4 separate regions of the Homo sapiens genome follow, and regions 1, 3 and 4 are each linked to region 2. The links come from fine-mapping of genetic effects on plasma protein levels. A gene starts in region 2. Each other region holds a variant in brackets. All regions are shown on one strand. Distances are from middle to middle.

Region 1 (8,143 bases), 170 kb after region 2:
AAGTAGGGTGGGTTTCTAATGTATGTCTATGCGAGTGAAAATCACTTCCTGGGGACAGACAAGTAAACTAACAGTTGCGGTTCCGTATAAGCTTTGAGTTGGGCACAGAGGAAGAACATCTGTCTCAGAACAGGGAGTCTCAAAAAGCTTCCAGGGAGAGGATGGAGACTTAAAGAATGAGAAGGGGAGGGGTGTGAGCCACACAGAAGTGAGCAAGTGTCAAATCATAAGGGACCTTATGTGCCAAGTAGGAAGTCTGAACATTAACTTGGGAACCGCAGGGCCCTGAGCAGAGGAGTCATGTGATTAAGGTTTTGTAAAGATGCTCTGGAAGCTGTGTGGAGAATGGACTGGAGGGTACTGACTCTGGAGGCAGAAAACCTTGTTAGAGCTTTTTAGGGTATCCAAGTCTGGCCTGCAACACCTAAATAAAGAAAGTAAAAGAGGTTGAGAAGAGAGACTCACCTGAACTGGGTGACTTCTTAAGGCGGTGAGGGAGAAGGAGGAGACAGGAGTGTGGATGACTTAGGTTTCAGCTTGGAGTCCAAGCACATGAGAGTAGTTCAAACATCAGATGTTTATAGTAGGAACAACAAAGACAAAGTAGAATAGAATTTTCGGACAAGAGACATTTAAGAAATGTGATATAATTTGGAAATGAGAGGCTGGGCATAATGGCTTACACCTGTAATCCCAGCACTTTGGGAGGCTGGGATTTGAGACCACCCTGGCCAACATAGTGAAACCCCGTCTCTACTAAAAAATAGAAAATATTAGCCAGGTTTGGTGGTGTGTGCCTGTAATCCAGCTACTCAGGAGGCCGAGGCAAGATAATCACTTGAACCCAGGAGGCAGAGGTCGCAGTGAGCCAAGATCGCACCACTGCACTCCAGCCTGGGCAACAGAGTGAGACTCCATCTCAAAAAACAAAACAAAACAAGAATTTGGAAATGAGTGACATATACAGGATGAATGGAGTAAGAGAATTGTAAGGGGAGCTGGAAAAGGGACATTCAAGAGCTAAAATGTGAAGGAAGATTGTGGAACCAAAGGGAGTGGAACACTGAAAAGAAGGTAGCAAGGGGTCAACAGTGCCACACACTGCAGAAAAGCCAAGTGAGACCACGGTAGATAATATCATTCTCTGTACCAGGAGCCTCAGACTTAGACATTCAGGACCCTCCTGGAAGTGATCCAGCCTTTTCCAAACCTATCTCCTTTTACTCCTGACATCTGTCGAATTGAACCATTCTGTTTCCCACGTGTGCCCCTCATTCGCATCTCCTGCTCCTTTTCCTTTCCTGGAACAAGTGCTTCAAAGTCCACATCAGATGGCATCACCTTCAATTGTGACTAATCTGGCATTCATCTCTCCCTTTCCTTGGCAATCATAGCAATTTTTCTGTACATCTCTGTGACACAAATCACTTTCTACCAAATATTATGATCACTCATGTAATTGTACTTTCTGCTTAGTTGCAAAGCACACAAATCATATTTGCAGAATACTTTGAAATTCAACTGTTAGGTCATACTAAAGACAGTTATGTAATAGTCTTTCACTAACAATCTGAAGAATTCTAAAACCAACTTCCCACCACCAAAATTTAGCTCTTAGAAGCTTAATGATGTGTGATATGAAATCAGTATAGCTGACTTTCTCACAACATTCTTACATTGTTTGTTCATTTTCTTAGACAGTTTTAACTTTGATTACAGAAAGTCAGTATACTTAGAGAGTAGGGAACAGAGAAGCATTTTTAAACACTGGTTTTTAAAGTAGGCTGCATATTAGAATCATCTAGGGAGTTTTAGAAATCCTGGTGCCCAGGTCCCACCCCCAGAACTTCTGATTTAATTGATAGGGCCTGTGGCCTGGGCACTGGGAGTCTTCAAATCTCCCCAGGCGGCTCTAGTGTGCAGTAGAGTTTGAGAACTACTGTTTTTCAAGTTCACTTGCATTTGAAGGTCGTGTCTTTTACTAGTGATGACTAATTGTTTCTACGTTGAGATGTGTATGTAGTTATAAATTTGTTTTTAACTGTCATGTATTCTCTCTTTTTCTCCCTGTGCCCCCAATTCATGAGAGAACAATCCGCAAAGGATGACTGACAGAGCTCTTATCTCTGCCAGGAGAGAAATACCAATTTCTTTTATAAATGGGTTGCTTTGGCCAGTTGCCAGAAAACAACAAAACCTTGAATATATAAAAATGTCTAGCTTGATAGAAAATACATTTGATTTTACACTAAAATTTTGAGGTACATTAACATTGTTCCAAGTACCAAATAGAAAAATAAGCATGTTAACTTTATTCTTAGCAAGTTCCAGGTAAGCAAAAATTTCTTTTAAAAAAATAGGTAGATGAGTGCTACTGCCCCAGTGTTATATGTTTCTGGTAATCATGTCTCCAGAAAGAAAATGTGTATAGATTTCTTTCTTTAAAGAGAAATGAAAGAGAAAGAGAGATAAGCACTGAGGTATCCATCAGCTCATCCCAGACATTAGTAAAGTGCTCCAACTTGTGTTTTACAGGAGAAATCCTAACAGTGGTTTCCTGCTTACATTCTCTGTTGGAAATCTTAATTTTAGTCCTTTCATTAGAAATGGTATAATAATATCTTTTGTTCTTTATACTGTACTTTGTTATACTACTAAGTTTGTGTACTCTTTATAAAGAGATGGGTACATCCAGAAGTACTAAATAAGTGATCATACATGGCTGCTTGTTATTTAAGCTATTCCATATTTATGTAACTGTTATGTCAGACAGGACTCACAGGGGGCAATGACATAACAACTTTAATTTTTCCCACAGTTGCTCCTACACTTCTGCTCTGTGGGGCAGTTCTGCTCCTGGAAGAAATCTCAGACACTTACTTCACCCAATTGTGTTTAATCAAAAATCTTCCAAACATTTGAATTCCTGAAACACTCCCAGTTTGGTTATTATTACATCCAGTTTGCCCATCAAAACTTCCAACTGTGTTCGCAGCCAAGGCTTTGCCCCTTCCCCGGCTCAGGCCTGCTGGCATGGTCAGAGAAGCCCCAAGCTTGGCAGCCATCTCATGCTGATAGCTCTGAGTTCCCTGGAGACCCTCCATTCCCCACACCCCACCTCCCAACTGCCACTGGGGCTTTACCCTGCCTTTCTGGTGGGTCCAAGTGTATAACCCCTCCCTTAGCTCCTGGGCAGCCAGCTAGACCCCTCTGCCATCCTTTCAAATTTTTGCCAAGATCCAATTCACATATTTCCTATGCCATGAAACCTTTTTGATTCATAATCTCAAGATAGCTTCCTTTTCTCTGAACTCTCATAGCACGTCATGCCTTCCTGTACCATTTATCCCTTTATTCCTTGTATTTTAGTAATTTATGGCACAGTCTCCTGTTATCTCCCCTACTATACACGGAACTTTTTGATAATGCTCATCATTCGTTTTTTTATTGCCCACAGTGTTGGGATTAAAAAAGAATATATTAAAATAAAAGTAAAGGCATTTATAAAATGTGTAGTTAGGTTATTATCATATTTAAAGTTCATGTTATATATGTAAACAACTATATAATTGAAGACAAGAAATTACTCAGGTATTGAATTTTGCTCATTTCATCAGGTTAAGAGGAAAAGGTAGATTTATATTTTATAATTTTTTAGATATTTAAAAATGGAAACAAATACAGTCATTCAAAAGCAATTTAATTTAAGCTGTTATATGAAGTAATTATCATATTTATTGTGTTATACCAAAGAGCAGACAGCAGATTATTTCCTTTACAAAAGGAACCCATATCTAAAAACTGTTGGGACTTCAGAACAGGTTTTTCATCATTTAATTTTTAAATATTGAATACCTTCCTGACTTTTAAGAGCTTTTAGCATAAAAGACCATTGCCTCCCTGTCTACCTTCCCTGTCTTCATGCAGAAGATAATTCATTTTTTTTACTTGATATTAGTGAGCATACAGACCCAGACTAAAACCCAGCTTATTATATATTTAAGAAATCATATTAAGGTGGCATTTGTGTCTTCTTTATAACAGCTGCGCTGTGTTGCCAGATCCTTTATTTCATTATGTAAAATACAATGACATTGTTATTTCCCCCAGTCCAGTTAAAAATGGACAACGGTCAAACTATTTTCAGTAGCACCAAAGAAACTAAATATGAGAGTTCTAGGTTAATCTCATCATGATTTTTGAGACAGTTCAATGAAAAAATTCACTTCAGATATATTTAGGGTTTCATCTTTCATTGCTGTCCAGTGGGAGGTCTCCATTCCAACTCTTACCATTCTGTGAGTTCAGTCATTCTTTTTAAAGGTAGTTGTAGCACAATTGAATAGCATGGGCTGACTGCTGGATATGCTTAGGGTGGTAGTTCTTGGCCATCCAGTAATTCTTTATTTACTTATCAAAACTGCATTGGCAATCGTCCTTGGCAGAGAGGGAGTAAGAGAGGCTTTTACCTCACATATGAA[G/TAAACAGGAAG]CCTCTTCCTGTTTATTGCAGATTGCAGCTTGTTCTGGTGAAAGGAGCCAGAATTGCTAGCGCTTCTAAGTTCATTCGCCTGTTGGGAAGAATAATTTTATTTTGAGCTACCAAACAAAATAACTGTGAACCTACTGATGTTGAGATCAGGCCAGCTTTTAACCTACAGGATTCTGTTGGTGTCTTTTTATTCTGGGCTTTCATTGTATTCACTATTAAATGGTTTGGATACAAAAATTACCTGGAGAGACCTAAGATTTGTTTTTGATGGTGAATGTTGGACCAGGCTGCTGAAGCGGAGTGTGCAGCTGAACATGTGGGACACCAGTGTCCATTCTGCATTGATGCTCAGACTCCTCTTTAAAACACTCCGCCCACATTTATGTAGCTGTTAAATTACAAATAATACTCTCCTCCTTTAAGCAGCATAAAGATGGTGTTGCAGGCTGGGCATGGTGGCTCATGCCTGTTTTCTCAGCACTTTAGGAGGCTGAGATGGGAGGATCACTTGCTCAGGAGTTTGAGACTGGCCTGGGCAACACAGTGAGACTTCTGTCAAAAATTGGAAAAAAAAATCAGTTGGCTGTGGTGGCACATGGTTGTAGTGCCAGCTACTTGGGAGGCAGAGGCGAGAGGATTCTTTGAGCCCAGGGGTGGGGTGGGTGGGGAGGGCAGGGGGGATGGGGGAAGGCGGCAGGTCAAGGCTACAGTGAGCTATTATCGCACCACTGCACTCCAGCCTGGGTAACGGAGCAAGATCCTGTCTCAAAAAACAAACAAACAACAACCAAAAAAAAACAGTGTTGCATAAGTCACACTGTGGGTGAGGGCATAAATCTCCCCAATTCCCAAACTTCCAGATAGAAAATATATATTTTTCTGTATTTATGCATATATTTTGTACTTTGAGAATATCAGTGTTTAAAGGCACATGAAACAAACTACAACAATTATGAAACACAAAACAGGGTTCTGTTAGATTTGTGAGTATGTAAAAATGTCAAATATTTTCACCAACAGGAAATAAAAACAAAGGAAATAAAATTGATAAAACTATTATTAATCTCAAGGAAAAATCTGCCACTATCATATTCATGTAATCAGAGACTTTCCAGCGATTTTAGTCATGCTACACTTATGCCAGGAAACCCACTCAGATTAACACCAAATAACTCATCTCTTACCATATAGTCTTTATCTGGGTGTGTTTTCTCGTCACCTGGTATAATGGAAAGAGTGCCTTCTAAGCAGACAACCTTCTTTCAGTGGCTTGGCCTCTTACTTTCTATATGGGCCTTGACAAGACACTGCTACTCTTCAAGCCTCAGTTTTTTCATCTGTAAAATGGGAGTCCAAGTTCATTATTCCTTAAGAGGAGTTTTAGAATTCAGGATTATTGGAGTCGCTTCCAAGATGGCCGAATAGGAACAGATCTGGTCTACAGCTCCCAGCAAGATCGACACAGAAGACGATGATTTCTGCATTCTGCATTTCCAACTGAGGTACCTGGTTCATCTCACTGGGACTGGTTGGACAGTGGGTGCAGCCCATGGAGGGCGAGCCAAAGCAGGGTGGGGTGTCGCCTCACTGGGGAAGCGCAAGGGGTCAGGGGGATTTCCCTTTCCTAGCCAAGGGAAGCTGTGAGTGACTGTATCTGGAGGAACGGTATGCTCCTGCCCAAATACTGTGCTTTTCCTATGGTCTTCACAACCAGCAGACCAGATTACCTCCTGTGCCTGGTGTGGCAGGTCCCACGCCCACGGAGCATTGCTCACTGCTAGTGCAGCAGCCTGAGATTGACCTGGGACCCTGGAGCTTGGTGCGGGGAGGGGCGTCCGCCGTTGCTGAGGCTTGAGTAGCTGGTTCTGTGCTCACCGTGTAAACAAAGTGGCAGGGAAGCTCAAACTGGGCAGAACCCACTTCAGCTCAGCAAGGCTTACTGCCTCTCTAGATACCACCTCTAGGGCAGGGCATATCTGAACAAAAGGCAGCAGACGACTTCTGCAGACTTAAACGTCCCTGCCTGACAGCTCTGAAGAGACCAGTGGTTCTCCCAGCACTGCATTTGAGATCCGATAATGGACAGACTGCCTTCTCCAGTGGGTCCCTGACCCCTGTGTAGCCTGTCTGGGAGACACCTCCCAGTAGGGACTGACAAACACCTCATACAGGTGGGTGCCCCTCTGAGATGAAGCTTCCAGAGGAAGGATCAGGCAGCAATACTTGCTGTTCAGCAGCCTTCGCTGGTGATACTCAGGCAAACAGGGTCTGGAGTGGACCTCCAGCAAACTCCAGCAGACCTGCAGCGGAGGGGCCTGTTAGAGGGAAAACTAACAAACAGGAAGCAATAGCATCAACATCAATGAAAAGGACATCTACATCAAAACCCCATCTCTAGGTCACCAACATCAAAGACCAAAGGTAGATAAAACCACAAAGATGAGGAGAAACCAGAGCAGAAAGGCTGAAGATTCCAAAAACCAGAAGGCCTCTTCTCCTCCAAAGGAACATAACTCCTTACCAGCAAGGGAACAAAACTGGATAGAGAATGAGTTTGACGAGTTGACAGAAGTAGGCTTCAGAAGGTTGGTAGTAACACACTTCTCCGAGCTAAAGAAGCATGTTCTAACCCATCACAAAGAAGGTAAAAACCTTGAAAAAAGCTTAGATGAATGGCTAACTAGAATAACCAGTGTAGAGAAGACCTCAAATGACCTGATGGAGCTGAAAACCACAGTACAAGAACTTTGAGAAGCATACACAAGCTTCAATAGCCTATTCGATCAAGCAGAAGAAAGGATATCAGTGATTGAAGACCAAATTAATGAAATAAAGCGAGAAGACAAGATTAGAGAAAAAAGAGTGAAAAGAAATGAACAAAGCCTCCAAGAAATATGGGACAATGTGAAAATACCAAATCTACATTTGATTGGTATACCTGAAAGTGACAGGGAGAATGGAACCAAGTTAGAAAACACTTTTCAGGGTATTATCCAGGAGAACTTCCCCAACCTAGCAAGGTAGGCCAACATTCAAATTCAGGAAATACAGAGAACACCACAAAGATACACCTCGAGAAGAGCAACCCCAAGACACATAGTTGTCAGATTCACCAAGGTTGAAATGAAGGAAAAAATGTTAAGGGCAGCCAGAGAGAAAGGTCGGGTTACCCACGAAGGGAAGTCCATCAGACTAACAGCGGATCTCTCTGCAGAAACCCTACAAGCCAGAAGAGAGTGGGGGCCAATATTCAACATTCTTAAAGAAAAGAATTTTCAACCCAGAATTTCATATCCAGCCAAACTAAGCTTCAAAAGTGAAGGAGACATAAAATCCTTTACAGACAAGCAAATGCTGAGAGATTTTGTCACCACCAGGCCTGCCTTACAAGAGCTCCTGAAGGAAGCACTAAACATGGAAATGAACAACCAGTACCGCCACTGCAAAAGCATGACAAATTGTAAAGACCATCAACGCTATGAAGAAACTGCATCAATTAATGGGCAAAATAATCAGGTAGCACCATAATGACAGGATCAAATTCACACCTAACAATATTATCCTTAAATGTAAATGGGCTAAATGCCCAAATTAAAAGACACAGACTGGCAAATTAGATAAAGAGTCAAGACCCATCATTGTGCTGTATTCAGGAGACCCAC
Region 2 (7,555 bases):
CCCCAGCACCTTGGAGGCTGGGGGTGGAGGAGGTGGTGAGGTGGGGTGGGGTGGTGAGGAGCTCAGAAAATGTTTTCCTGAATTAGAGAACTGAAGGAATCAAGGCTCCGCTGAGCTCACTAAGCGCTGGAGCCTGCTGTAAGTGGTCAAGTCGGGTGATACCCAGCAGACAAGTAATTTGTGTGCAGACCGGAGTAGATTACGGAGGACCCAAGGGTCAGGCTAAGGATCCTGAACACCATCCACGATAGAGTGGAGACGTGCGCTTCGGAGCCTGAACTATGCAGCAAGCAGTGTGTTTACTCAAATACTATACAGTTGGAAAATCTTAATTCTCGATTTACATTGCCAAAAAAAAAAAAAAAAAATCTCCATAATACTCCCCCATTTGTAAATAAGCAAATCCGAACTAACCCTATTCCTTGGGACCAGAAGACCCAGTTTCTACCGCGGATAGATAGCATCCGCCTTATGCTAAAAGCTCTTTTTTCTGCGGTGGTGGGGGGCGGCGGGGAGTGTTTGGAAAGAACGGTTGCAAAAACAAAACAAAACCCCCAAAACCACTCACCCAATCTCAACCACCCCAACTGATGAATTTCGAAGAAAGTGCTTTTTAAAAAAGAAAAAACTAGAAGACCACAGACCTCCCACAGAAAGCTAAACCCATGAGAGTGGCATTCAAAAACTACCCATTTTCTGGAACATCTTTTGTAGCTAAATCCCAGCCATCCTAGCCCCGGAACACTCCCGCCCTCCGTCCCCGCACCCCCACCCCCGCCGCCACACGCGCTCGCAGGCTGACGGAGGTTGGCGGTGGGGCGGCCGCTCAGGTGAGGGGCCACCCAGTCCCTCGAGGCGCCGGCGGCTGGAGCCCATTCGCTGCCGTCGCAGCAGCAGGGCAAGAGGGGGTTGGCCAGGAGGGGAGGAGGCGGAGGACGCCCGCAGGGAGTGCGGGGGAGGGGGACGGGAGGACGCTAAGGAGAGCCGGGAGGGGCAAAAGCACGGCGCGGGGAGGGGGAGCGGAGAGGGCGGGAGCGGCGGGGGCGCGCGCCGGCGCGGGGCCAGCCTCGCTTCGCCAGGGTCGCTGGCGGACGCGCGCCGCAGTCCGAGCCTCAGACGCGCGGGCGCGGGGGACGGCGCAGGGGCCGCCTGGCTGGAGCAGCCAGAGGGGATAGCTTCGTCGAGAACGGAGGACACCGGCGGTCCAGGGTCCTGGGCAGTCGCGCCAGAGCTGAGCGGAGGGCGCGGCGCGAGAACGTAAGTAGCTCCTTGCGCGTCTGGCGGTGACACTGGGTCCTGCTCGGGGGTGACGGCTGGAGCGGAGGAGGACGCGCGAGGCTGCTGCGTTGTCACTTGGACACCGCCGCGGGGTTCAGCCGAGCGCTCACCGGGCTGGCAGCGCTGCAGGAGGGGCAAAGCAGATCTCCAACTCCCTTCTCCCCTGCAGGCCCCCGACACTCCCGCGGGCGCCGAGAGGGAGCAGGGGGACCTGCGCTTGGGTGAAGGCACAGCTGAAATCCAGCAGCGCCGGCACCCACCACCCCCTCCAGCCTGTGGCCAACTTCTGCTCCGCGCCCGCACCCCACGCTTTCCGGGAAGCCCTGCCCAGAGCTCTTGCTCGTGGGCAGTTGGGCATGGAGAGCCTGCGGGCCCGGCACGGCGGCTTCCCGGGCTTGGACACGGAGGCGCGGGGCGTCACGCCACAGTGCCGGCGGGGCGAGGAGCGCGGGGGCCGGGCCGGGAGCGCACGGGCGTGTGCCTGTTCGGGCCCCTGCGGACACGTCTGGGCGTGGGCTTTGTTCGGAAGTGCGTACACCTGTGCTGACCACGGAGTTCGGGGGCGAGGCCGACTTCGCTTCTCCAGTCGCTGCCTGGAGAGGGCTCGGGGAATCGAGGCGGAACGAGAGAGACACGGAGGACAGAGGGGTGGGGCGCTTGCGGGGGCTTTGTCGGCCTTACAGGTGCGGGTCCCGGGAGTCCCTGCGCCCCGCCCTGCCTCCGAGGGCTGGGACTTGTCGGGGCCGGCGCACCGGGCTGGGGGCTGCCTGGAAAGATTGCTTTCCCAGCCCAGGCTCTTAGCGGTGGGATCTGGCATCCGCTCCGCCCGGGATGCTGTGTTGAGCCAGGAGTGATTACCCGCCCTGGAGCATCCATCTCGCAGCGAGCGCCATCTGCGCCGAGCGCCGCCCCCGGCCCCCTCCACGCCGCGCGGGTGGGCGCTGCCGCATCCTGGTCCCAGGCGGTTGGCCAGCTCAGCTACTCCCGGCCCGCATCTGCTAGAGTGCGGAGGGGGACGGGGTGTCGCAGTAGGGTGAGCAAGGGAGTCGTCATTTCTCCCAAAGCGGTGTCCTCAGGGCCGCAAGCGCTGCTGGAGGGCTCCCCGGGCCCCGGGGCTGGCGAACAGGCCGCTTCCTTCCCCGGATCGCCTCCCCTCCCGCCCGCGCCCGCGGCCACATCTTCGTCCCCCGTACGCTGGCGGGTGGCCCCTGCGCCGCGGGCACCGAGGGAGGGCGCCGAGCGGTGGCGTTTCTTTCGCACCCCGCCTCTCTCCTTCCCTTTTCTTCGCATCAGGGGCTCCAGCCCTTGGCTACCACCGGCGCAGAACTGTCCTGAGAAGAAAGCTTTCTTTTCCTTTCCGAGTCCCAGATGGTTAACGCTCAGAAGTGCGGGTCTAAGAGACTGGGCTCTTCCTCGCCCCAGGCTTTTGCAGGAGGAGATGGAGCCAAGTGTAATGAGGCAGGAAGCATTGGTTGTGCACCAGGAGCTCCCCCTGGGGTGGTCCTGGAAAGGAACACAGTAACCTCTGAATACAAACCTCGGAGGCTGGGCTGCTTTATGGGACTGCATTGTGCTAACCATGCCCTGCTGTTAAAATATTGTAATAATGGCAGTACTTGCTGAAGTACTGAAATGGAGTTAGGCAACTGATACTTGCTGCTTTAATGGTAACGATAGCCAACCGGTTTTGAGAGCTTTAGATGTGCTGGGCGCTGCGCATGTTACATGTATCATCTCATTTAATTCTCACAGCAACCCCATTTTAAAAATTAGGAAATGAAGGCTTAGAGAAACCAAGTAACTTTCCCAAGGCCACACAGCTAGGAAGTAGGGGAGTGGGATTGTTTTTGTCCTTGTGCTTTACAATCCAAGACTGAGACTGTGGCCTTTTGGAGGCTTATCAGTTTAGGGGAAACCTAAACCACTGAGTGTTCAAAACCAGGGAGATACATTACAAGCCCATTTAATTCGGAGCTCTGCAGAACTCACAGTAGCAGGCAATATTGTGATTCAGAGAACTGTATTGTGGAATAGCCTTTTATTCCCATGTAACTCCTTTACATATTCTTTTATTCCTGTTAGCTTTTAAGTACGTGGCTGTTAACCCACAATCCAACCCATTACAGTCACTGAACAACATGTTCTTAGTAACCAGGGCCTCTGTGATTACATAGATGTTCCTGGCACATCATAAAGTTTCATAAAACTTTTTTTTCTTTAAAGAAAAGGTCCCCAGCCCTGAATGTCCTTTGTACACGGTTTTGACTGCAAATGAGTTACTCCTCAAATTGGATGTTGAGTTTGAATAGGACCCTAGCATCCAATCTTAGGAAATCATTCTATTTCCTAAATATATAGAAACATGTGGGGGCATTTATGAAGATGCTCCATGTTAACTAGTAAAAAAGGAAAATTTGAACCAAAGTGGAATCAGCTATTTCTGGAATAGCTTTTAGAATTATAATTAACTGATCAATTGGAAAAATTGATTTATTTTGCATTCATAATCCTACTGACTCATAGTCTTGTTTCAACCTTCTTTTTACTTTATTACAGGAAAGTTGCTAAACATTTTACATAATCCAGGAATTTTAGAGCTGTTAGAGGACTCAGGCAACATTGTATCTAACTAATCCTTCGAGTTTCAAAACAACTGCAATAGGGCTCAGCCTCGTAATGCAGGGTAGTGATGAGGTCTTTGGACTGAAGGCCATTGCCCTTACACCACATCATTTTTGTTAATGCTACGGTAACAGTGAATAGAAAGCAAAGCATCTTTGGAAATAGTACTTCCTGTGAGGCCAATACAACAATGATGGCAATAATCGCTAGGTGTAAGTGCTTCAGAAGTGTGAGGGGGTCCTGAGAATGTATACACCTGGGCTGTAGAAAATTTCAAGAATCATTTCAAATAATGCTTTCATGCAGGTGTAATTTTCCCTGTGTAACAGATTGAATATAAATAGACTCTACAGATATTATATTGTGTATGTACATAGGAGCTGTTGAATGGAACTCTACAGGAAGCTTTTCCGTTAAAAAGATTTCATTCATTCATTCCTTCATTCTTTAATAAATATTTACTGTGTTCCAGGCAGTGGGGATACAGTGGTGACCAAACAGAATATCTGTCCTTGGGAAGATTAATTCTAATTTTATCATCTAGCTACATACTTCATCACACAGAGTTTTTTTCACATATCACAAATGCATAGCCGATGAACTTGCACAAACTGAACACATTGACTTAACTAGCACTCAGATCAAGGAACAGTGTAATGCACATCTGAGAAAGCCCTCTTGTGGTCCCTTCCAGTCATTACTCACCCCAAAGGGTAACCACTGAGGCACTGAGGCTTTTTCCTTATATTCTCACCATAGATCAGCAGCTATTGGAATCTCATCCTCATTTTCAAAGAGTACCTACCATCTGAGAAGCTCGGTAACCCATAGCAAATTTAACTGGAATGTAGAGCTTCTAACATATTCTTTAGGAAGTTTTGTGCATTTGAATCAAAAGACTGCTTTACTTCAGTCTTCAGCTGTTGCAATGATTGATGAAGAGGAAGTGATTTGAAAATTACTAAATACATTTAGATATGCTTTTCCCTTAAAATTTTATGCTTCCCTACCTGAAGCATCCCTTCCAGGAACCTTCCTGGCAGGTGAGGACAGAGGAGAGAACTGGATGCTAAGGGCAAAAATCCAGTGACTTATTTTACTTAAACATTTTACTGCCTTGGCAAATGAAAAGCTCCTTCTGTTTAAAACAGCCTCTATTGGGATCAAAGGCTGAAGTTTCTTCCCCCCCCCACAGCATTAATGAGATATAATTGACAAGTAAAAGTTGTATACATTTAATATGTACAACATGATATTTTGATATATGTATACATTGTGAAATGATTACCACAATCAAACTAATAAACACATCTATCACCTCACACAGTTAATTTGTGTATGTGTGGTGAGAACATCTCATCTCCCCAATTCCCCTACCCACTAGCAATCACCATTCTACTCTCTGCTTCTATGAGTTTGACTGAAGTTTCTAAGAATAGGAAGATGTACCAAAATGAATTGACAAATTTTTATTTTTTCTCTTAAAATTGAAGGCTACCTGAGGAAGGAAATAGGGGAATGGCTCAGCCTTCAGCGTCAGCAACTGTAAATCCTTCATTATCAGGTTGTCTTTAAATGGGGCAGCAAATGCAATATGTTTATTTAAAAAATGTTTTTGCTAAGTTTTTTATTGTAAAATATATATGACATAAGATATGCCATTAAACTATTTCTAAGTGTATACTTCAGTGGCATTAAGTACATTCACATTGTGTGCAGCCATCACCACTATACCTCTCCAGAACATTTTTTGCCTTCCCAAATTGTAACTCTGTACACATTAAACAATAGTTCATAACCCCTCAGCCCCCAGCCCCTGGCAACAAACATCCTACTTCCAGTCTATGAATCTGATGACCCTAAGTACCTCATATGAGTGGAATCATACAGTATTTATTTGTCTTTCTGTAACTGGTTTATTTTGCTTACCATAGTGCCTTCAAGGTTGATCCATGTGTCAGAATTTCCTTCCTTTGTAATGCTGAATAATATTTCATTGTATGTATATGCCACATTTTGTTTATCCATTCATATGTCATATATACTTGGGTTACTTTCATCTTTTGGCTATTGCAAATGATGCTGCCATGAACATGGATGTACAAATATCTGAGTCACTGCTTTCAATTCTCTGGGGTATATACCCAGAAATGAGACTGCTAGATCATATGGTAGTTCTATTTTTTTTTGAGACATCGTTATACTCTTTTCCATAGTAGCTGTACCATTTTACATTTCTGCCAACAATGCGCAGGGGTTCCAGTTTGTCCACATTTTCTCCAACACTTGTTATTTTCTGTTTTCTTGATAATAGCCATCCTAATAGGTTTGAAGTGCAATCACTGTTACTTTTTTTTTCTTTCTTTGTTTTTTTTTTTTTGGAGACGGAGTCTCGCCCTGTCACTTGGGCTGGAGTGCAATGCTGCAGTCTCGGCTCACTGCAACCTCTGCCTCCCTGGTTCAAGTGATTGTCCTGCCTCAGCCACCTGATTACCTGGGATTACAGGCACCTGCCACCATGCCCAGCTAATTTTTGTATTTTTAGTAGAGACAGGGTTTTACCAGGTTGGCCAAGCTGGTCTTCAACCCCTGACCTCAGGTGATACATCCACCTTGGCCTCCCAAAGTGCTGAGATTACAAGCGTGAGTCACCACGCCCAGCCACTGTTATCTTTTAAAGCTGTAAATTAATATCTATATATTCTGAACAAGTCATTCACAGCATTTCTAATTTATTGGTTTAACATTTATTAATATGGAGGTATATGGTTTTCAACAAGTATTAATTGATTACATACTTTGTGCAAAGCAAGAAATTGATGTTGTGGAGCATATGTGTTGTAGTCCAAGTCCAGGATAAGCCAGCATTGATGGCATACATTCATGGTATTTTTCTAAAATGTTGAATTAAAGTACCTATGTCTGTAATACACTTGTGCTAAATGATTTTGCTATGAGGATAAGTTAAATAAATATGCTTTTTTTACTGCCAAAAAATGGCATTATTATTTTAATCTAGAACAAGAGCAAATTTGCCTCATATCTGAAAATAGAAATATTCTTATGCTGAATGTTTAGGGATGTACTGGCATTGTAAATTATAGTTCCACATTGGGCATTTCTCCCTACCATTGAATCTTCCAAGATGACAGCATAAACCTTCACCACCCAATTATAATTGCTTAGCTGAGCTAATAAAAAAGATGTGGTGTCAACTTAATTGACCTATTTTACTGGCCTACAAGATTGGAATTTCAAATTAGAAAAAGGTAATTTTTAACAGTCTGATGGAGGGTTTCCATCAAGTGACTAAGAAGCTAGTGAAGATAAAAAAAAAAAAAAGCCAGTGGTAAAGGGAACAAATTATAACCACTAATGCTCCTGTACTCACATACTGTCCTAATGGCATATTCAGTTCGAACACAGGAATGATGAATCTTACTTGTATTATGTGCTCTCCGAATTTCTTCCATATTGCCCTGGACTAAAACATGGTTTAATTCACATGAGAATGAAAATGACAGGTACTGTCAGGCAAAAATGATCCTTTTGAAATTCTTCTCATTAAATAATGGTAGGAAGGGCTGGAAACTATATTTTGAATATATATATGTTGAATATATATATATGTTTAAATTTTATTATGTGCATAGTG
Region 3 (8,143 bases), 350 kb before region 2:
TGGGGCTTGAAGCTAGCTTTTAGTGAAATGTTCTTTAAAGCCATTTGTTTGAAAATTCGATGACACCTAGTGGCAGATTCAGCTCATCACTACTGGGCACTCAATGAGAGATCTGTGGCCTCCATTTTGAGACTTTCCAAAAATAGGTAAATAAACCAAGCATTTTTGGCCAATATGAAAGATGGAGAGATAGTTTACTGCAACTGCGCCACTTTCATGCAACAAATCAAGGTTGACAAAGTGACAATAAGACAGCAATATGGGAGACGGAGGGCTTTGTCCCCTGCCCTTCCTATTCCTGTGTGTTGTTGTTTCACATGAACCTGATCAGAAAAACTTCAGTCAATTCAATCATTTCAATGCGAACAATTAAGTAAACCAAACCTTGTTAATATCTATTCTGATAATATACGAAAAAGTCGTCTATTTGTACAATTGATGGATAAACATTTGGTCTTAATTCAGTGCCATCCCAAGTGAACCAAAAAGCTTTAGCTATAGTAGATTATGAACTTTCTCTTTCTTCTCTAAGGAGCTATAATCCAGTCAGACTCTAAAAATATTTAATGAGTCTTAACTTATAATCATGTTAAATATCCTTTCTTTATACATGTCACCTAAAACATCATAGATTTATATGGGTAATTTCTTGCCTCAATTGTATATGATGCACTACATGAAATATTTAGGCCAACTTTAATGTCCAAAGAGTCTTTCACAGGGTGTGACACAAACTGGAAGGTATCGGGTTACCTGTGGAAAAATGGTTTGAAATTTCACTGAAAACAGCATACCCCGGGACCTATACTTGGTTCTTAAATTTAGTCAACAAAGGTATATTTAATACTACTAAGCCCCAGGCACTGTATTAGACTCAAGACAACAAAACCAAATAAGTCAAACTTGTGATCTTGGACTTCTTAGTCTGTTGGATAGTGAGATCAAGAAGTACACCAATGCTAGGACAAAAGTAAGTACCAGGTTCTTTTTATGAGGGCATGGGAAATTTACCTACACCACGTTTGGTGGGAAGTGGGAAGAAATAATGATAATAAGCAAATCCTTCCATGACCAGATGGCACTGGAGATGACTTTTAAATATTGGATAAGACAGGGTCAGATGAAGAAATGCATGGTACTGAGGAGCGGGGGGAACTTAGGCAGAAGGAATGGAAGGTAGAAAAGGACAAGCGTGGCAGGTCACAGTACACTGCTTGGAAAGCAAATCATTCAACATAAATTTTACACTAAAGGTAATCATATGCCTTTTAAGGCTTTTAAGAAAAAAAGTGAAAGTATCAAATTGGAATAATAAAAGTATCACTTCCCAGATGTGCTGAAGTCACAGAAGACTGGGAGAAAAAATTCACTGGATTCTGTGGGGAAAATCAAGTTCACCTAGTTTAATTCCAAGTCAGCTAATTAGAATCAGGATCTACGTAGCTTGGAAAGAGAATCTCACAAACAAATTAGTAGTGTAGCAACATCTAGTCATTTTGCTAACCTAACCTAACAAATTTTAGGCTTAGTTCCTCCTACCTAACAAAATGAAATGTAAAAAGAAAGAAAGGAGAAAATAACAAAACTACAATGATGAGAGCTCTTCTGAGAGTTTTCTGGATGCTCTAACTGTATCAGACAGGTTGTCTCCCTAGAAGTAGGCTCTCCAAGAAGGACAAGCAGAGAAATAAAATGCAGATCAAGGGAAGACACATACAGCTTGGGGAGAATTGCTAACCCCTATATGCAGTCCAACCCCTCTATGGGTAGGCTTGTGGTTTTTATTGCTTTAGGAAACTGGCAGAACAAGCTATTGGAATCTTACTCTCTTCCAGATTCCATTTAGAGTCAAGCTCCCCTAACCTTCCCATAAAGCACAGCCTGAAGATAAAACTGTTCCTCAAAACCACCTCACAGAGCAAAATCAAAGCAATGAGGGCTGATACAACCATTGCAGGGCTGATACAGGGCTGATACAACCATTGCAAAGATTTCAGAAAGAGAACTTTGATTTTATTTCTTGTGTGTTTTGTCTGCATAGAAGGGAGGACAAAGGGAGGAGAGAGGGAGGCAGGGAGGAGAGAGGGAGGCAGGGGGGAGAGAGGGAAGCAGGGAGGGAGGGAGGGCCCACTATTTTATGCAGGCAAGGAAATAGATATCATGATGACCCAGGCTGCTGCAGTTTTTAAGACAAGAAATGACGTGGGTCTAAACAAAGGCAGTGAGGATAGAGTGGGAAAATATGACCTGAATTTAGAGATACTAAAGAGGTTGTATTAGTCCATTCTCACACTGGTATAAAGATACTACCCGACACTGGGTAATTTATAAAGGAAAGAGGTTTAGTTGACTCACAGTTCTGCATGGCTGGGAGGCCTCAGGAAACTTACAATCATGGTGGAAGGGGAAGCAAACACGTCCTTCTTTACAAGGCAGCCGCAGAGAGAAGCACAAGCACAGGAAATGCCAGACATTTATAAAACCATCATATCTTATGAGAACTCACTCACTATCATAAGAACAGCATGGGGAACCGCCCCCCCATGATCAAATCACCTCCCGTTGGGTGCCTCCCTTGACATGCGGTGATTACAGGGATTGCAATTCAAGATGAGAGTTGGGTGGGGACACAGAGCCAAGCCATATCAGAGGTCAATTGAATAAGGTTTGCTGACCAGTCGGATGTGGAATACAGAGAAATAAAAAAATCTGGGATAATCCCTACATTTCTGGCTTCGGAGGAGGCTAAGCAATAATGCCATCCACCGAGCTTGGAAATATAGGAATTTAAGGGAAGAAAGAAGGGGAAGGGGGAAAGAATTAAGTTTTGTTTTAGGCTGAATTGTCTCTGAGACATAAAAGTATGAAGTCTACTAGGCTGTTGAATGTATGGATCTAGAGCTGAAGAAACAGGTTTGGGCTAGTGATCTGGGGCATCAGCTTTTAGATGATAAGTAAATCTCAGCAGAGAGTTAGAAAGCAGACCCCAATGAGTAACGATCCTAAACTTTTAAATTCTACTTCTTCTATTCAAAAAAAAAGAGACTTTTATAATAATAACAAGCTACCCAAGTTATAGTCCTATTTTATTTTCTTTCCAAATTCCTTTTCTTTACTTAGTACTTTCCTTTTAATGGGGACTTGACTTTTCAGGATGGAGTTTCCCTAGCACTTTGCGACATGCCTATACTTCCTCTTTGGAATGCCCCTTAAAGGACCTGTTCTGTTTGCTTTGCCGTGAAGTGGGGTGGTGCAAAACAATCTCTGACAAGCAGAATCAGGGACAATCAGATATATGCCTCTACCCCAACATCCCTTTCCTTTATGAACAAAAGAAAACACCCAAATCTTTCTCAGTCTACTTGTATTATCAGAAGAAGAGCTTTGAGTGTAAGTTGTCCAGGTCCTTGGTGTTTTGAACAAAGAATTGCACAAAATGCACAAAGTAACAAAAGAACAAAATACAAGAACAAAGCCGCGAAAGCAGGAATTTATTAAAGAGAGAAAGCACTCCACAGGGTGGGAGTCAGCCGAGCAAGCAGCTCGAGGGCCCAGTTATAAAGTTCTCTGTGTTTTAAGTACTCCTTTTGAGGTTCCTACCAGTTATTCCTTATCTGGATGAAGGATTTGGCCTATGGCTAATTAAAGGCTGAGGTGAATTGGTGCCCTATGCAAATGAAGGGATGGTCCCTGCTTGGCCCACAGCTAATCCAGGACACTATCCCTTTCCATCTGAGAAGCGGTGAAACTGAAACGGTAGGGTTGTAGGGAGAGTAGCCTTTGACCCTTTGTTACTAGACATGGGGAGATGGGGTTTTTCCTTTTGGTTCAGCTTTTGGAAGTTTGCCTTAATTGGCCTTAAGGTCCCTGCTCCCAGACCCAGGTGTTTTCCTTTTGATCCAGTTTTGGGAAGTCAGCATAAATTGGCCGCAGATTCCCTGCCCCAGGGCCTTGATGTTTTTCCTTGATTCATCACAAATGGACCTTAAGTTCCCTGCCTCCAGACCCCATTCTCCTGACTCATTTGGATCATCATGAAACAGATATGGAATATAGAACAATCTCTCTATGGGGACCCTCAAGATTCCCAATCCTGACTGACTCTTCCATTTTCCGGGTTAACTAAAGACCCAATGGAACAGGCCTAGTCGAGCATTCTGAGTTCCCATCAGATATTTGCCATTTGAATAAGAAATTCAAATTATAATAGTAAATGTCAATATTGAACATTTCACCAATCTGATATCATTAAAACAAAATGAAGCAATTTTTTAAAACTCACAAAACTCCAAATACAATACATTTTTTCTTTTTCTCTCACTAGAAACCTGGCCAGTTTTAATCTTAATTATTTACTCTGCCCCATACAAAAATAGTCCTATCAAAAATAAGAGCATGTGTCAATATGGGGATAAAATTAGCATTTATTTAAAAATATTTAAGAAACTTTACCACAAAGTGATTTGTTGTATTTATTTTAATACAGAGAGATAGCATTTTAAAACTTGTCTTTGTATTTACTCTTCACTAGAATATTCCTAGGTATGAATATGGAAACCCATTTGCCAAACA[A/G]AAAGTCGCATCTAATACAATATCAGTTCAACAGCCAACTCTGCTTTGCTGATGGCTCTGTGATTATTTAGCACCTATTTTATGCTAGTGCTTTGCCAGACAGACAAGGTGATAGATGAAGAAGTTAGTTTCTACCTTCAAAAAGAACACATTCTGGAGGGGTACAAGATCCTCATAAATCAGGAACAGTGACCTTGTGTGATAAGTGTTTTGCTGCTGGCATAATGGTTATGATACAATAGACTCTTTAAAACTACTCTTCATTAAATGAGTTACTTCATGTCAAAAGCCTCAAAGAGTAACTAGCACACTGTAAACTCTCAATAAATATTAGCATCTTTGGTAGACACATATCAACAACCCCTTTTACAGATGGTTTAATTGAAAAAAAAAAAAAAAAAGAAAGTTTAAATAACTTACTAAATGTCCAGAGCTAGAAAGTAGAGAAGCTATGAATGGCACTGAAGTTGTTCTGACATCAGAACTCATGACCTTTCCACATTGCTCCATGATTTCTCGAAGTATAAGAAAGAGAAGAGAGAGGAGGAGAAAAGAGGAGAGGAAAGGAGGGGAGAAGAGGGGAGAGGAGGGGAGGGAAGGGGGAAGGAAGGGAGTGGAGGAGAGGAGGAGGAAAGGGGAGGGGGGACAACAGCGGGGGAAGTGGAGGAGAGGTGGAGGGAAGGAAAGGAGGGGAGGGGACAGGAGGAGGGGAGAGGGGAAGGGGGAGAAGAGGGGAGGAAAGGAGACCAGGGGAGGGGAGAAGGGGAGGGGAAAGGGGAAGGGCGAGAGAAGAGGAGAGAGTAGAGGAGAGGTGGAGGGAAGGGGAAGGAGTTGTGGAGAGGTAGAGGCAAGGGGAGGAGGGGAAGGGAAGGGTGGAGAAGGGAGGAGGGGGAGGAGGGGAGAATGGGATTTCATTCTGCCTCTGGAATTGGGAGTTAAGGAAGTTTACACAGAGGCAAGGACACATGAGCTGGGCTTGAAGAAGGAGAGACCAGGAGGCAAAGAACAGCAACACTAAATTCCAAATGAGGGGTGGGAGAAAGTATATGCAAAATAATCAAGGCTCAAATGCACCCAGCATATTTTGGGTGATAACATGTAGTCTAGTATGATTCAATACTTAGGAGTTCAAGACAAGATTTGAGAGTGTGGTGGAAAAGAAATGTATATGTTAAAAACAATGCAATGTTGAAAATGTTGCCTGGAAACAGATTATGAAGTGCCTTAAACACCATGGTAATTAACTTGATGCTCTTGATACAGATTCATTGTTTTAAGAAGGAAAGAGACATGATTAGAGAAAGTAATATGGTAGAAGTGCAGGGAAGAATTGAGATGCCTAGAGGAAAAACATTATTAGGAGCCTATTTAAACTAGTTGAGAAATGAGGCAACACATATGAAGGGAATGTCAGAAACAACAGAGGAAGAGAAAGGAAATTGCGATGTTAATTCTGATGTGCTATCAGCAAGACTCATTGATTGATTCCCGGGAGTGTGAAAAGGAGGAGTCAAAAATGGCAAGGTTTCCAGCAGGAGTGACTGCAAAGTAATTCTATTAAGAGGATGGAGAAAACTTACCTGAAGATAGAAATTAGCTGTGTGACCTTTGAGATGCCCTTAAGGCCAACCAGGTGAAGATGATAATCGGCAGCTCAGATATGAAGTCTAGGTTAGAGATAGAATTTGTGGAAATCATGATATTTGAGATCATGGCAGTGAATATGAGAATGAGAGTGTCACAGAGCCAACAACTCATCCTTTGGTAATATCAGCATTTACAGGCTTCCAAAAAGTAAAAGAAGCCTGGAAGGAGACTGATAAATAGTAGTCAAAAAGTTAACAGGAAAATTGAGAGATGGTAGTGACTCAAAAGCCATAGGATCCTGGAGGATGCGACTGATATTGTTGGTGGGAGGCTACCAGTCACCTGGGAGAAGCCCACTTCCGCACAGTAATGGATGTGAGAATCCCAGGAAGTTGAGGAGAGCCAAGGTGGTGAGAATAGACTTTTCTTTCCCATTTGGCTACAAAAAAATAGAAAGAATATTGAGCGGGAGGGGGACTCAAGATCAAGGGATGCTATAATAGCTGTTAAGTATGTGGACATTTGCGTGTATTGACAAGCTGTTAAAGGGCCAGGGAGGAGGAAAATCCTGATGCCATGAGAGACCTGGGAAATAAGAGTGACTCCTAGGAAGAGGCAGTATGGGGTTGTTAGGGGTAACAAAACTCATGAGCTCTCATTTTACATATTGGTTTTCCTTTAGTCTCTTGCCGGTCTCCCAATGCATTCTGAGGAACAAATTCAGCTCATGGATGCTAGGAACCCAGGATAAATACTTTTAAAAACAACAATTGACCCTTTTCAGCCAGTCGTTTTGTATAATCTCTTCAGACACACAACCTGCTATTTTTGCAACACTGAGCAACCCAGGTCCCCAAATCAAGGTGTTTGGTGGCAAATACCTGTAGTTTCAGAGAATGACACCTCACTCAGTATCCTCCCTCTTCTACCTCTTGCCAGACCTTTTACTTGCAGCTGCTTCACTGCATATATATCTTATAAAGTGCTTTAGGAATAAAGCACTCTCATTAATTCTCTGTTCACTCACTTCAGGATTTATTCCACCTACTACTAATAAACTGGTATGATTTATGATATGCAGTTTACTTTCACCCATTATAGGCATCTAAGACAAACTCTGAAGGCTTTTCAAACACTAATCAAAACCTTACTAAAGCTGAGCCCTGCTCTGTTCCTAATAATTTCACAAAATACCTTAGAGAGAAGCAAGTTTCAAAGACAGCAGAAAATTCCTTTCACACTGTACAAGGGCTTCTCCCTAAGAGACACTCACACTGCTCCACTCACGGAATAGGCTTCAGTTGTTTTGTCTTTTTTTTTCATACATATCTCAAATTCATATTCAACCTTCTACCCATCTTTTCACACACAAGTCATAATACCTACTTCAGAATATGTTTTCTAAATGCCTCCAGAGGACTGGTTTTTCACATACATCAGTGAGTGTTTAGGTGTAGTCACTACCTCAAGGCAGGTAGATGTACTAACTGACTTGTAAATTCATTTCCTATGTGTCATAGTTTAATTGCATTCTCAAAGAGACCAGTGGATGAGATTTTAGGTGTTTAGTGTAGGTCTCTATATTCTTCTTTGGCCACTTCTAGCCTTCCCCAACACCCAAATTGGGGCCATATTTTCCATGTAACTGAATTAGGGAAGACTGATGGAAGAGGAAGTTTTGAAAGGAAGAGACAAGTTTGAGAAGCTTTTGAGAAAAATCCAGAGGGAGTTAGAGATCTCCCTTTGAGATCCATGGAAAAGTTGAAGGGCTAGAGATAAGACTTTCTAAGCAGAAAGAGAATCTCTGTTTTATTTTAAGAGAGATCCCTGATGTTTGCCAGGTAGGGAAAAATGGCTCAGATAACATTGTATCCTATTTCCTCCAAATTGGCACTAAGCAGCTCCAATGTCAGGACCTGTCATAAATGACAAAGATTAGTACTAGTTTTACAAGGATTAACATCAAAAAATAGCTCCAAGCCTT
Region 4 (8,143 bases), 1.0 Mb before region 2:
AACATGAAAATGCAAGCCATAAACAGGGGAAAATATTCACAATGCATATATGCATGACAAGGGATTAATATCCAGAATAAATATTTTTTAAAACTCCTCTGAACCTATGACACAAAGCACATTAAATTCAGCTTAAAACTGAGCAAATGTCTTGGATGACACTTAATGGATTTTGAAATATATATGAAGAAATTTATATTTGAAGAAATATAAATGGCCTATAAATACATGGGAAAAAATGTTCAATAGCTATCAGGGAGATACAAATTAAAACCAAAGTGAAATACCATTTTCTACCCACTAGAATGGCTAAATTTACTAATGTTACCATACTCAATGTAGGAGTGAATTTTGATCAATTGGAATTCTCATATATTGCTGTACAAATAGTTTGGGAAATTACTTAATAGTTCCTTAAGAAGTTAAATGTGTATCTATGCAATGATTTTTAAATTCTGCTTTAATTAATTAATTCATTTGTTTTTATTGTTTTGTATTTTTTTTTTTTGAGACAGTCTCACTCTGTTGCCCAGGCAGGAGTGCAGTGGTGCGGTCTCAGCTCACTGCAACTTCTGCCTCTCAGGTTCAAGCGATTCTGCTGCCTTAGCCTCCCAGGTAGCTGGGATTGCAGGCGCCGGCCACCAGGCCTGGCTAACTTTTGTATTTTTAGTAGGGATGGGGTTTCACCATGTTGGCCAGGCTGGTCTTGAAATCCTGACCTCAGGTGATCCGCCCGCCTCGGCGTCCCAAAGTGCTAGGATTACCAGCATGAGCCACCGCACCCAGCCCTTTAATATATTTAACCAAAGTAAAATAAAATATATGTCAGACTAAAGACCTTCTACAAAAGTGACTTTTGAAGCCTTATTTGGAATAGCAAAATATTGGCAACAACTCATTTTGTCAATGGAAGAATGAAGAGACAAATTTTGATAATTTCACATGATGATGTGGCACTTAACAATAAAAAGGAATGAACTATGTATGTTCTATGGAAGAATTTCAAAACCTTTGTAGTGAGCAAACAAAGCCAAACACGAGAGAGTACATATCGTAAGATTCTGTTATTACGAATTTCATAAACAGGCAAAACAGAACTCCAAATAGGATTTGCCTTTAGGAAGAAAGGTTATTATGTAGAATGAGACTTGAGTGAATTTCTGGGGTGATGGACATGTTTTATATTTAAATTGGTGTTTTGATTACACAATTATATGTACATTTCCATGTAAATTGCCTATTTCAGTTCGAATTGCTCATTTTGCGATATATAACTATATACCAGTATGAAAGAGAAAAAGAGAGAGACATAAAAATGTTTATAATTACCACACTAGCATAAATTTTCTACTGGTTAGGCATTAGTTTTAGATGTCTTATTATCTTAATTTTTGTAAGAAACCAATATGGTGTAAAGCATTATTAACCCCATTTTATAGATGAGGAAAGTAAGAGACAGGAGAGTTAACTAATAGTTAAGAGTCACACAAAGCTGAGATTCAAATCCTAGGAATTTGTTTTGGAATTCCAAGTTTATGCACACATATCATCATCATCGTCATCATCATCACCATCATCATTATCAACTTTTATGAGAACCTTGACTACCACTAGTGTTGTGAATATCGCTGACTTTAAATGTGTGCAGAAGCTTTATAAAACAATATCATGATCTGAACCCATAATCTCTTCCTAGGTATTTCCATCTTCACTCAAGACCTAAGTATCATTTGTTCACAATTCAAGTGATATTTCTTACCCACATCCAAGTAATTGTCCTGTTTCATTTTTGTCCCAATAGTATCTCATTTGCAATGTACTATGTTCCCCTCCCAACTCCTCACTGCAAACCTGGGCCTCTTCTAGTATTTTCTATTTTTGTGAAACTTCATATATGCATCCTATTATGTAAGCCAGGAAGAGAAGACTCCATTTAGCATATGATAAATATTGTTGAGCTCATACTTAATATTACATACTTTTCTTTTCCCTGATAAAAACAACAACAACAACAACAACAAAACAGTAAACAAGATAGGCAAGACCTCCATTTGAACAGAGCTTATGTGAGTGGAGATAATAGACAATAAGCACGCAAAGAAAACAAAACAAAACATAAATAATATGTATGTTTTATACACACACACACACACACATCGCTACTCTCTCTCTCTATATATATATATATTATATTAGTGATAGGGACTCTGCAGAAAATTACAGCTAGTTAATACAAAAGAAAAATTCAGAATGGGGCAGGGAGTCAAAGAATGTCTCTATGAATGACAAGAGTGAGCAAACATGAATATCCACATAAAAATTTTGTGAAGGATAGAACATTTGTGCAAAATTTCTGAGGTGAGATCAAGCTTGGCATCTTTGAGAAATGGAGAGAGGAGCAGTGCTGCTAGGGCAGGTCGGAGAAATAGAGTGGATGGTGCCAGGGAGGCAGGCAAAGCCTGTTGGAATACAGGACTTCATGAGTCAGGGAGAGGAGTCTGGTTTTTACTCTAGGAAAAATGGAAAACCACTGGAAATCGATGGCTCACCACTGTTCTTAGGAGAAAGGCAACATTTGTTAAACAGGGCTGATATTTTACACCTGTTAAGATGCGTTGTGTTGTTGGATCCTCTAGCTTTGTTTTGCATCATAGTCTCGCTTGACGTGCTCTGGTGCAGCTGACTACATTTTAGTTCCTAGAATCACTATGATTCCTCAAGCCACAATGCATTGAGCCATGCTGCTTCTTTTACCTAGGATAACAGAATTTTCAAACAAATGAATGGGTCAGATTTGGATATTGTAAAATAGCGACTCGCACTGATTTCTGAAATAACAAAAGAGTTGGGGAACAAAAAAGAAAAAGAAGCCTTCCTCCCAACCTCACTTCCACATCGAAGACTTAGATCCTGTGCCATCAAAGATTCTAGGTCAGTCTTCCTCCTGAAGGAAGCCTCTGTGTATTGCTGGAGAACTGCTTCCTCCTCTCAGCGTCACTACTTATTATATACCAGATCAGACAATTCTATAAGGCCACACAGTCTGAGACAGAAGGGGATCTGTCATGGTGCCTTTTATTCTGAGTTAAGTCATCTAAAGTAAAATAAAGGAAAAACGAAATGAGCACAGACAGCTGTATGCTCTAGAAAGAATAGTGTTTGCATGCAAAGAAACAAAACAAAACAAAACCTACAGATTGCTTCAAATTAAGACCAGAAAAAGGCTATGAAAAAATGTAAAATCCTCATGTCAGGGCAGCAGAACTACATGATATAAGTGCTTAATACAAAGTGGGGAAAGTAAGCCCTAAGCAAAACTTATCTAAATAATATAACTTAAGATCTCAGAAATAAACATCTGTGGAAATAAATAAAGCATAGAGGGACAATCAGCAACCTCTTAATCAAAGTAGATCTCTACTGCTTTAGAATTGTATACATTGGAGGGTGGGGAAAATGAAAAATAAAAATATAGAGGCTTAAAAAATATATATAGACAGAGAGGCTTGTAAGATATTCTGTAACATGAGCATGGAACTGTTTCCCTAAAATAAGCAGAAGGAAAGTAGAACTATAAAAACTATTTACTACAGGATACATCAGTATAGGTAAGACTATATTCAGTTTGAGTTTTCAGAAATATTAACAAATAATAGTCTGCCTAAAATAAGGTATTAAAGATTAAATAAAATGAGAACTGGTTTATATATACAACAAATGCTAAGAAACTAAAGACGTAAGCAGAAAACATATTTGCATAAGAGTTAAGAAAGAACAGATTCTGTCATACGCAAAGTCAAATCCACAATTTGGAAAATAGACTAAAAATATCCTTAAACACAATACCTGTGAAAAACATGATGAATATCAAAAGCAGAGAATATAGAGAGAGTGTAGTTCTAAATCACGGATGAACTACATTTTAAGACATAAACTGGCATAAAGAAAACAGAAACATGTTGTGATATTCAAAAATATTTCCATGATGTTTTACTTTTTTTATTTTTTCATTTTTTATTTTTGTATTTTATTGTTTACGAAGAATGTCCATGCCCATTTTTTTGCAAATTCTTTTTTTTTATTTTTATTATACTTCAAGTTCCAGGGTACATGTGCACAACGTGCAGGTTTGATACATATGTATACATGTGCCACGTTGGTGTGCTGCACCCATTAACTCGCCATTTAACATTAGGTATATCTCCTAATGCTGTCCCTCCCCCTTCCCCCACCCCACAACAGGCCCCGGTGTGTGATGTTCCCCTTCCTGTGTCCAAGTGTTTTCATTGTTCAATTCCCACCTATGAGTGAGAACATGTGGTGTTTGGTTTTTTCCCTTGCGATAGTTTGCTGAGAATGATGGTTTCCAGCTTCATCCATGTCCCTACAAAGGACATGCAGCCAACAGACACATGAAAAAATGCTCATCATCACTGGCCATCAGAGAAATGCAAATCAAAACCGCAATGAGAAACCATTTCACACCAGTTAGAATGGCGATCATTAAAAAGTCAAGAAACAACAGATGCTGGACAGGATGTGGAGAAATAGGAACACTTTTACACTGTTGGTGGGACTGTAAACTAGTTCAACCATTGTGGAAGTCAGTGTGGCAATTCCTCAAGGATCTAGAACTAGAAATACTATTTGACCCAGCCATCCTATTACTGGGTATATACGCAAAGGATTATAAATCATGCTGTTATAAAGACACATGCACATGTATTTTTATTGTGGCACTATTCACAATAGCAAGACTTGGAACCAACCCAAATGTCTATCAATGA[T/C]AGACTGGATTAAGAAAATGTGGCACATATACACCATGGAATACTATGCAGCCATAAAAAAGGATGTTTTACTTTTTTTAAAGTAAACTGCTGACTGCAAGAATTCACTGTACTCCAGGTTCAAATAATACTAAAAGAACACTCATTTGACATATTTTGAAGAAGGCTTGAATTTTGATTATAAAGAAAATAAAATAATAAACACACATATATAAATAATGAGACCACTTTTAGGGAAAATTCATGTAACCCTGGTTTATTTTAAACTCATTCAATCCTGGTTTATTTTTACCTTGTCATTAATGTAGAAGGGCAATGTGAAAAGATTTTTGGACATACAAAATTAGAACACAGAATAAAAAATGATCTATGTAACCTGCCCCGAAAATGCACTAATTGAAAATATAAACTCCGAAATAGAGAAGAATGGATTTATAGAATGGCATAAGCCCTGATTGTATCTCTCATCTTTGTGATGGCTATTTTATATTAAGTTTAGATTGCTTATTAATTCAACAAATACTTTTGCACACCAGTGTGCCAGGGGATATACTAGCGTATCATAATGCTAGTATGAGGGACAAAAATATTTGACAATATGGGAATGAAATCACAAAAAGAAAACATCATTAATGATTCTTAAACGTTGATGCCCCCCCAAATTAATAATAATGACTTGAGTGTATATACTGAGTTCATATTTCTTTGAGAGAAATTGGAGAGCAAGAGAATATTATACTAGATTCTTCATTTTACATTGAGGGAGTTGTAAGTAATGATATTCATCCTGAACATGACAACTTTGAAAATAAATTTAATCACATGTAATATTTTAAACTCTACTATATAAACACTAAATCATTTTAAAAATGTGACCAATATATACCTATATAATTAATATGACAATTAATGAAAATAATTTTAAATAGTATAAATACTAATACATAAAAATAACATACCAAATATCAGCACATGGAAAATAATTAAACTTCCCATTAAGAAAGAACATCTATCTGATTTGGATAAAAGCAATATATGTTTTAAGAATATACTGCTTATATGAGAAACATCTGAAGCTGAAAAGTCAAAAATAAAAATAAAGTGACATATAAATGCAGTTTTGAATGTAGAGTATTTAATTGTTTTTTTCTGTGATGTGTACAAGAACAGATATAAGTAAATAATATGCCAAAATATCTGTACCAGTTTGCAGTGCAGCTGATTTTTATTTTATGATTTTTAATTTTCTATATTTTTACTTTTTCCATAAAGGTATATATTCTAAGATTAGAAAAAGAGAGGTGAAGATTTTATTTTAAAAACAAAGATCTCCAGATCATTTACTATTTTGTTTTTGTAAAATATTTCTCTTCTTGCTTATCTAATTAACTAGTCAGGTCAGCACTTTGTTATTTTAGCAAAGATGAATAAGTCTGGGAATTAATGACTATGAACAAGGGAATATTCTTAGATATTATGACCTTGACTTTAATTTGTCTCTAGAAACATGGGATATTAAATGAGTTGGAACTTGTTTATTTTTCATCATTTGAAGGAATATTCCTTCTTACCTGATCTACTTGTCCCACAAGCTCTTGAGATTTATAATTCTAATTTCTTATCAGTTGACAGCTTTGAAATGTTTATTTCATTTGAAAAGGGTGCATACATAGCAAATGTTAAAATATGACAGAGAAAATATCATCATAATTGCAGCTTTAATTTAAATAGTAAAATTGTTATTTTAATCCTATTTTATAAGACTATTTTAACCAGTTATCGGCTTCCCCCTCATCCTCTGATTCCTGTGTCCACACAGCACTATGCTTCAACTGGGGCAAAGGATTCTTTTGCTTCAAAGCATTTTTGATCATTTATAATCTCACTTACCCAGAGCTAATTGCTTAAAAATCCCTTACACATTTTCCTTTTGCTAAGTTCCACTTGGGGCTTACGATTGCTTAGAGACTTATTTTTGCTTCTCTTCTCCTCTCTGCATGAATTCTTGCTGGCCCCTCTCCACTCTATTTCTGATATATTTTAATTCCTTGTCTCTTTTTAATGTTGAGAGATTAAATTCAGCCTTAGCTTTGCTCCACAGACATGCATATCCCAATTCATGCCAAAGCTCAGAAAAGCAAAGAGGCTTCTAATGAACAGTAGTATCTGAATGAGAAGCCACCCTGTTAAGCATACATTTTGGAGTCTCATTCCCCTCTCCAAACACTAATATTTCTTCCTAATATGCAGTACGCCCTCCCCAAAGGGAGTTCAGATGAATTAGGATTTTTCTATATCTTTACAACACTTAAATATATCCCAGTCGTGCTAAAAATGTGGTCTCCAGATAGCATCAGCATCACCTGTAACCTCATTAGAAATGCAGGTTCTTGGGCCCTAATCCACACCCACTGAATCAGAAATTCTAGGAGTTTCTCTGGTGATTCTAATTGCATGTAAAAATTAAGAACTACTGAACATAGTCTGCAGCAACATAGAAAAAAGTAATATGCATAATCTCAAAATGAATTTCTATGTAATTAGATCATATTTAGAATGGCAGAATAAGGATGGGAAGGGGGATGAGGCAGTAGGGCATACCTGCGTGTTCAGAATCCAGCTCTGGTCATACTCCTGAACTTGCTTCATCCCTAGTTTTCATATTCAACAGCTCCTTGAGCCAGTTTGTACTACCCCCACCTTATTCTGCCAATCACATAATTTACCTTAATTCATTGCTGGATGTCTGCACACCTGGCCTGAATTTAAATCTGCAGCATCCAAACTTTCCCTGTGCTTTCCATGCACAGAGTTCAGCCTATGCCAATGTGAGACTCACCTCAAGGTGACTGCTCAAGGTCTCCTTTCATCCTGTCCCTGATTTCCTGTTTCTAGAGCCCCACACCACCTGATATGCTGCTCATTTCAATGTTCTAGTATAATTTTCCTAATCCTAATAAAGAATTTCATCCTTGTAATAATGTAGTGCATGTTCACCACAAACACAAAATGGCCTCCTTTTGCCAGTTCAGTAACAGAGAATTGGTCTAAATTTTAAATATAATTTGATTTAATGAATGTACTTTTTTCCCCTTCCTAGTTAATTACCACAACCAATGATAGATTTGGGCCAGATTGCAAAGAATATTGAAGGAATTATATTTTGTCCTATATGCAATGGTAATAGTTGAAAAGTTTGATAAGAGAATAGAAGCTGTCAATGGAGATGACAGGGTAAGAATTACCTATGGTAGACAATGAAGAGGACTTTGAATTAAGCTAAGTAAGAGATTACAATAATGGTTAATAGTTTGGTCTAGAGTTGGGGTGGTAAAGATTCAGGTAAGTGGATACAT

Alleles and levels. Alleles are on the strand shown, and positions count from the first base shown. The strength of an association depends on the size of the effect and on how common the allele is.
For the plasma level of the protein whose gene starts at base 1,064 in region 2, allele TAAACAGGAAG in region 1 goes with a higher level than allele G (strong association).
For the plasma level of the protein whose gene starts at base 1,064 in region 2, A is the low allele of the variant in region 3 and G is the other (moderate association).
With allele C in place of T in region 4, the plasma level of the protein whose gene starts at base 1,064 in region 2 is higher (moderate association).

Evidence for each region. PIP is the posterior inclusion probability: the model's chance that the variant is causal. The UK Biobank Pharma Proteomics Project read protein levels with antibody pairs (Olink). The fine-mapping took linkage between variants from a reference panel, not from the people measured, so its PIPs are less certain.
Region 1: its variant is fine-mapped to the plasma level of the NRCAM protein (UK Biobank, PIP above 0.99).
Region 3: its variant is fine-mapped to the plasma level of the NRCAM protein (UK Biobank, PIP above 0.99).
Region 4: its variant is fine-mapped to the plasma level of the NRCAM protein (UK Biobank, PIP above 0.99).

What each region holds. Positions count from the first base shown.
Region 1 is chr7:108,276,642-108,284,784 of GRCh38, reverse strand. All of the region lies in intron 3 of NRCAM (neuronal cell adhesion molecule), which reads left to right. Among named protein-coding and RNA genes, the nearest start is that of LAMB4, 150 kb to the right of the region's middle. The variant G/TAAACAGGAAG (reference allele first, on the strand shown) is at 4,482.
Region 2 is chr7:108,449,945-108,457,499 of GRCh38, reverse strand. It overlaps NRCAM (neuronal cell adhesion molecule), which reads left to right and starts at 1,064. Exons shown (of 33, transcript NM_001037132.4): 1 at 1,064-1,257.
Region 3 is chr7:108,797,916-108,806,058 of GRCh38, reverse strand. All of the region lies in intron 2 of LOC107986836 (a long non-coding RNA gene), which reads right to left. Among named protein-coding and RNA genes, the nearest start is that of LINC02903, 83 kb to the left of the region's middle. The variant A/G (reference allele first, on the strand shown) is at 4,573.
Region 4 is chr7:109,487,508-109,495,650 of GRCh38, reverse strand. No RefSeq gene overlaps it. Among named protein-coding and RNA genes, the nearest start is that of LINC02903, 610 kb to the right of the region's middle. The variant T/C (reference allele first, on the strand shown) is at 4,788.